2 linked regions of the Homo sapiens genome follow. The protein of the gene in region 1 purifies or fractionates together with the protein of each later gene. This does not show direct contact. Each region holds a gene or a part of one and is shown in the gene's direction. Other genes may lie near its edges. The genes, in order: MSH5 and BORA.

The links.
Region 2: the proteins of MSH5 (region 1) and BORA purify together in Homo sapiens (affinity purification with mass spectrometry; one large-scale study listed by BioGRID and IntAct). This does not show direct contact.

Annotation. Positions count from the first base shown.
Region 1 is NC_000006.12:31,753,337-31,757,159, forward strand, and holds part of MSH5 (mutS protein homolog 5), read left to right. Parts: coding exon 1-103; intron 104-230; coding exon 231-293; intron 294-3,823.
Region 2 is NC_000013.11:72,734,187-72,738,009, forward strand, and holds part of BORA (protein aurora borealis), read left to right. Parts: intron 1-773; coding exon 774-819; intron 820-3,775; coding exon 3,776-3,823. UniProt on the Homo sapiens protein: Required for the activation of AURKA at the onset of mitosis.

The DNA of each region.
Region 1 (3,823 bases):
GCTCAGTTCTCGTCTGGACGTCATTCAGTTTTTTCTGCTGCCCCAGAATCTGGACATGGCTCAGATGCTGCATCGGCTCCTGGGTCACATCAAGAACGTGCCTGTGAGCCCAGGGTGGAGGGCAGGGAGGTGGGGAAGGAGGTTGAGGGCTGATACTGGGCAGTGGGCTTCTTGAGGGGCATTAGAGTGAGGGAAGAGAAAACAGCGGCTGTAACCTTGTCTGACTGTAGCTGATTCTGAAACGCATGAAGTTGTCCCACACCAAGGTCAGCGACTGGCAGGTTCTCTACAAGGTAAGGCCTTCCTTCTTGAATCCCAAAAGTCCAGGTAAAGGCCCTCAGCCTGTATTCCAGACTGTCTGTACCCTAGACATGCTGTCCAATTTTATTCTACCCTCTTTTTTTTTTTTTTGGAGACAGCCTCGCTCTGTCGCCCAGGCTGAAGTGCCATGGGGCGATCTTGGCTCACTGCAACCTCCGCCTCCTGGGTTCAAGCAATTCTGCCTCAGCCTCCCGAGAAGTTGGGATTACAAGCGCCCGCCACCATGCCTGGCAAATTTTTGTATTTTTAGTAGAGACAGGATTTCACCATGTTGGCCAGGCTGGTCTTGAACTCCTGACTTCAGGTGATCCACCTGCCTCAGCCTCCCAAGGTGCTGGGATTACAGGTGTGAACCACCAGGCCCGGCCTCCCTCTTTTTTTTTTTAACTTTGTATTCAGGAAAATGTAAAAAATATTTAGAATAATATAATTAACCCCCATGTACCCACCATGCAGTTTCAACACTTTAACTTACGCCAATTTTTTTTTATTTCTTTTTCTTTTTTTTTTTAGACAGAGTCTTGCTCTGTCGCCCAGGCTGGATTGCAGTGGTGCGATCTCGGCTCACTGCAACCTCTGCCTCCCAAGTTCAAGTGATTCTCCTACCTCAGCCTCCCAAATAGCTGGGATTACAGGTGCCCACCACCACACTGGAGTGATTTTTGTATTTTTAGTAGAGATGGGATTTCACCATGTTGGCCAGGCTGGTCTCAAATTCCTGGCCTCAAGTGATCTGCCCATCTCGGCCTCCCAAAGTGCTAGGATTATAGGTGGGAGCCACCGTGCCCAGCCTAGTATGTGTCATCTATATCTTTTTCTACTTTCCCCTCTTGGATTATTTTGTGGGTTTTGTTGTCGTTTGTTTGTTTTTTTAAATAAGGTCCTGCTTTGTCACCCATACTAGAGCAGAGTGGTGCAGTCATATTTCATTGCAGCCTCTAACTTCTGGGCTCAAGCAATCCTCCCACCTTAGCCTCCAGAGTAACTGGGACTATAAGCCTGAGATGCTGCACCTGGCTTTCTTGGATTATTTTGAAGCAAGTCCCAGCCATTATATCATTTCATCCATAAATATTTCAGTGTAATTTCTTTTTTCTTTTTTTTTTTTTTTTTGAGATGGAGTCTCACTCTGTCACCAGGCTGGAGTGCAGTGGCATGATCTCGGCTCACTGCAACCTCCGCCTCCCAGGTTCAAGCGATTCTCCTGCCTCAGCCTCCCATGTAGCTGGGATAACAGGCACATGCCACCATGCCCAAGTTTTTTTTTTGTATTTTTAGTAGAGACAGGGTTTCACCATGTTGGCCAGGATGGTCTTGATCTCCTGACCTCGTGATCCACCCGCCTCGGCCTCCCAGAGTGCTGGGATTACAGGCGTGAGCCACCTCACCCGGCCAATATTTCAGGGTAATTTCTAAAAGAAAATTATTTTTTAAAAAGAATAACAGTATTGTTATCTTACTTTAAAAATTGTATTATTTGGTATCATCAAATATCTGAAATTTTTCTTTTTTGAGACAGGGTCTCACTCTGTCACCCAGGCTTGAGTGCAATGGCACAATTGTAGCTCACTGCAGCCTCAAACTGTTGGGCTCAAGCGATCCTCCCCCCTCAGCCTCCTGAGTAGCAGGGACCACAGGTGATGGCCATCACACCGAACTAAGTTTTTATTTTTTGCTTGCATTTATTTATTTATTTATTTATTTATTTATTTATTTATTTTTGAGACGGGATTTTGCTCTTGTAGCCCAGGCTGGAGTGCAATGGTGTGATCTCGGCTCACCGCAACCTCCACCTCCTGGGTTCAAGTGATTCTCTTGCCTCAGCCTCCCAAGTAGCTGGGATTACAGGTGCGTGCCACCACGCCCAGCTAATTTTGTATTTTTAGTAGAGACAGGGTTTCTCCCTGTTGGTCGGGCTGGTCTCGAACTCCCGACCTCAGATGATCTGCCTGCCCCGGCCTCCCAAAGTGCTGGGATTACAGGCGTGAGCCATTGCACCTGACCAATTTTTTATTTTTTGTAGAGACAGGATCTCACTATGTTGCTCAAGGTGGTCTCAAACTCCTGAGCTCAAGTGATCCTCCTGCTTGGGCCTCCCAAAGTGCTGAGACTATTGGTGTGAGCCACGATGCCCAGTCAGATGATGGCCCTAGTCCTTTTTAATCTACCGGTTCCTTCTCTATCTTTTCTCTCTTGTTCTTTCTTTCTTTTTCTCTTTTTCTTCTCCTGGCAATTTGTTGAAGAAACTAGATTATTATTTGTCTTATAGTGTTTTCCATTAGCCTGGATTTTGCTGTTTGCATTTCCTAGATGTTTTTGGCACATTTCTCTCTCTTCTATAGTTTCTGTAAATTAATATTTAGTTCTAGAAGCATGATTAGGTTCAGAGTTTTTTTTTTTTCAATACTGTTTTAGAAGTAGAGGAACATAATGTCTGATATGTCCGATTGTCTCTCTTTTTCTGATGTTGGCAAATGTTCTGATGTTTAATACCTAAATCTATTATTCATTTATTTATTTATTTATTTAGTTTGAGGTGAGTCTCCCTCTGTCGCCAGGCTGAAGTGCAGTGGCACGATCTTGGCTCACTGCAACCTCCGCCTCCTGAGTTCAAGTGATTCTCCTGCCTCAGCCTCCTGAGTAGCTGGGACTTACAGGCGCACACCACCACGCCCAGCTAATTTTTGTATTTTTAGTAGAGACGGGATTTCACCATGTTGGCCAGGATGGTCTTGATCTCTTGACCTCAGGTGATCCACCCGCCTCAGCCTCCCAAAGTGCTGGGATTACAGGCGTGAACCACTACACCCAGCCATCTATTAATTCTTTAGCAATTACAAAGTAGTAGCATTTAAATCTCTGATTCTTTCTTCATTTATTAGCCAGAAATTTCTGTAAAGAGAAACTTCCTTTTATGTACTATTTGGTTGCCAAGTGATAGAAATCATATAGAAATACAGAAAATTGCTTGATATTTCCCCCACTCTTTTTTTTTTGAGACAGAGTCTTGCTCTGTCACCAGGCTGGAGTGCAGTGGCACAATCTTGGCTCACTGCAACCTCCACCTCCCGGGTTGGGTTTCAAGTGATTCTCCTGCCTCAGCCTCCCGAGTAGCTGGGACTATAGGCGTGTGCCACCATGCCTGGCTAATTTTTGTATTTTTAGTAGAGACAGGGTTTCACCATGATGGCCAGGATGGTCTTGATCTCTTGACCTCGTGATCCACCCGCCTCGGCCTCCCAAAGTGCTGGGATTACAGGTGTGAGCCACCATGCCCAGCCCTTTTTTTTTTCCCCAATATGGAACGCTTCTTGAATTTGTGTCATCCGTGCCCAGTGGCCGTGCTAATCCCTGTAACCTTCGAAATTTCAGTATATGTGCTGCAGAAATGAGCACCCCCCACCTTTATTTACTAGCTATCAATATGGTAAATTAGTTCCCTAACATTCTCCAAGATAGCCATGAGATTTTTTTGTTTTTTGTTTGTTTGTTTGTTTGTTTG
Region 2 (3,823 bases), on another chromosome or scaffold:
TTAAAATAAAAGTTAAAGAAAAAATTCTGAGACAAAATAATTTTAAATTGTAAAAAAAAATATGTCTTACCAATTTACTGATGGAAGGCAAGGATTCTTTCCTGTAATGGAATAAAGAAGTGGTCCTAGAAAGCTAACTGCTGAGTCCTTGGCAAGTATATGCTTTGTGCTTGGACCCAAAATTTTATATTAAATCTTGTAGCTGAGAAGTTTATATAACAGTAATTGCAGATTGTATCAAAGTGAAAAAAAAATTCATTTGGAAAAAATGTTATATTGTCAGTGTTTTATTTCAGAGTTAATATTTTTGACTGTTTAGAACTGTGAACTATCCTCATCTATTTTACAGTAAAAGTTGATTCTAAAATTATTGCCATGATAAACTTGTTATAATTGAAGAGAAAAACTTTGGACAATTTTTAGATGTATGTTGAATTAAATACTTCTTAATTTGTATTAAGGGACAAAGTTTATCAAATTTATATTGTTAAAAGCAATTTAATATCAATGTAAGTCTTTTGAAATAAAGTATCATTGCATTCAAACTTTGAATGGAAAAGAGGGAGGTAAGCCTAACAGCTAACTGCTGAATTTCAGAATACTGCCTAAATGTTACTAAATGTTACAAGATACCACTAGTATTAATTATAAAGTGAGCTTAACATTTGCCAGTTTTCAATGAAGGGAGATTATTTATTTGAAAGGTTATTTTTTAAAATGTTCAATAAGCTTAAGTAATAGCATGGTTATTTTTCTTCTTTATCTTTGTATAGAATAGATAAAGATGTGGAAGACAAAAGACAAAAAGCCATTGAAGAGGTAACTTAAACTGTTACTGATCATTAAATCAGTTAAGGATCAATTCTGCATGTACATCACTTCTTTTAGGAAGACTTTCTTCAATTCCTTCACTGTCCTATCTCCCCTCCAAGCCCTTCACAGTCCCATCTATATAAAGCACCCTTCTGTACTGTCCTAAGACCAATAATTTCCAGCTATCCCAGTACCTTGCATAGCACTTGCATACTGTTGTAATGATCAGTTTAGTGTTTCTGTCCCCTAGACGCAATCTTTTTTGGCCAATACTGTACTTCATCCTTTCATTCTCAGGACCTAGCACAATTTGTCTTCCTTGTGCCTTCAAAATGTTGATTAGCACAAACTTTGTTTCAAGTTGGAGTTTATGTAGAGGAAGTCGAATATTCTCAGGCCTTCAGAGTCTAGATTGGCATTGGGAATGGCTTTGTCTTTTTTTGTTAATACTTTGGATTTTTAAGATATTCATGAAATAAAATCTCTTACTGTTAAACAGGAAAGGTATATCATAATGTAGGCTTTCTAAAAAATAAAAATAATTAAGTTTTTTGCTTTTTTATGTCTGTTGAATTGCCTTTCTTAGCATCTAAATAAGGTTATTATTATTATTATTTTTTGTTTTTTGAGACGGCGTTTCGTTCTTGTTGCCCAGGCTGGAGTGCAATGGCATGATCTCAGCCCACTGCAGTCTCCGCCTCCCAGGTTCAAGTGATTCTCCTGCCTCAGTCTCCCGAGTAGCTGGGATTACAGGCATGCGCCACCACACGCAGCTAATTTTGTATTTTTAGTAGAGACGGGATTTCTCCATCTTGGTCAAGCTGGTCTCGAACTCCCGACCTCAGATGATCCGCCTACCTTGGCCTCCCAAAGTGCTGGGATTACAGGCGTGAGCCACTGCGCCTGGCCCAGCATCTAAGTAAGGGTTACTTACCTTGTTCTTTCCTCAGAAAGTCTTTATGTGATGGCAGCATTTCTGATTTTTACTTTTCTGCCCCTCTAGCCCCCTCAACCCTCCTCTGTTCCTTAGCCGTACTTGGCTCTTCCGTACCACAAAAGACTATGTTTACTCCTGCTAAACATTACCTACTTCTTCTTCTATCTAGTAACTGCACAGTTTTCATTCTGACTCAGTCACTTGGTTCTTCCCCACCTGAATATTCTCAGACTCTCAAAATTTCCAACATTTTGAAAAAATACTTTCTTTAAGAATCCTTAATTTTAAAGAGAAACCCAGCAGGTAAACTTAAGAAAATTTGTTTCTTTTCAATATATATTTTTGAAAATAGAAGAAACATATACATATAGTAAAAACAAAAAGAAAAAATATAAAATAAAAAGCCTCCTGTTTCCCCATCCCACTTCATGAAGGTAATGACTATAACATTTCTTATGTGTACTTTCAGATTAATTTTACTTATTTAATAGCATATGTCCTTAAAATATTTTCGACAAATAGGATTATCATTCTCATACTATTATCGTTCTCATACTGCATCCTCCTTTTTTTGCTTCATGATTTTTCTTAGAAATTTTTGATAACCAGCATATACAGATTTTTACATTCTCTTAGCAACAGCATAGTTACCTAGCCCCTGTTGACAGATGTTTAAATTGTGTTTATTATTTTTCTGTCACAAATAATGCTGCAGTGATTTGTATATATATCTTTATATTCTTGAAATGGACCTAGTAAGTCAGAGGCTTTGTGAATTTTCAGTTTTGGTAGATTTTACCATATTGCCCTCCTAAAAGGTTATACCAGTTTATACTCCTGATTACAGTGTGACACTGCTTGATTTTCCATATCTCCAATATTGATTATTATCAGAATTCTTAATTTGTTCTACTCCTATTACTTTAAAAATGACTTTTTTTTTTTGTATTTCTTTACTTTTGAGTGAACTTATACATCACTTTGTAAGTTTATAGGTCCTTTAATTTTTTTTCTGGTAATTGTCTATATCTGCCCCAGTCCACCTTTAAAAAAAAAAAAAAAAAGAATCTTTTCCTCTTAGATTCATGGGTAATTTAGTTAAGAAAATTAGCTCTTTGTCATATGTATAGCAAAATATGAAGAAAATATGTTTGGTTACTTGCAAAACCTAGGGAAGGGAAAACACTGTGGTAGAAATGAAAGAGGAAAGAAAAGTATACAAATGCTCTATCTCATTTGAATATACTGGCCAGTAGTGTGCTGGTGAATGTTTAACAACTTGCTCTCTGGTCGTGGAAGGAGTACGATTTATAGCGATTCCTGCTATCCATAGTGTAAGTACTCCAACCATGGCCAGTTTCAAGCTACTGATGTGACATCACTGAATGGGAAAGGAAGAATAGTGGCACACCATTATATGTAGGAATTCCACCATACAGATACAAAATACATTATTAACCTCAAGAGCATAGACATTGATAAATATATAAAATAATTAGCAAGTGGTGAGTTTTGGATATTTGTTACCTTTATTTTTAATATATTTAATTGTAAGTTTACATAATTTTATTTTTAATATTGGTTTTAACAACTGGTGCACAGAATTCTTGAAAATTTAATAATCAGATCTTGAGAGCCAGAACAAACAAGCCAGCTTCAGTGCCGTCATTCATACTGGCCTACTTGCATGTCTCTGTCTTAATATATTCCTTCCCTTTTCATCCTTTTTTTTGTAACCCCATCAAAAAAACCTGGGAAAGAAATTTAAAATACTTTGTCTATGATTAATCCTCTTAGTTTAGTTTGCAAGTTTCAAATTTAACTGGTTGATTTGAAGTATTAAGATTCCTCTTTATATATACTTTAAATTTCTTCCATTTTTCCTTTGGTCATTTGTATTAAAATTTTTGCATACAGTTATAAAGTTAGTATATGACATGTTTAATAATTACTTGGAAAAACACAGGTACCGTCTCACATTTTGGGTGGAATTTATGCCTAATTGTATGACTTTAATTTTCCTAGTTTTTCACTAAAGATGTCATCGTACCCTCTCCTTGGACTGATCATGAA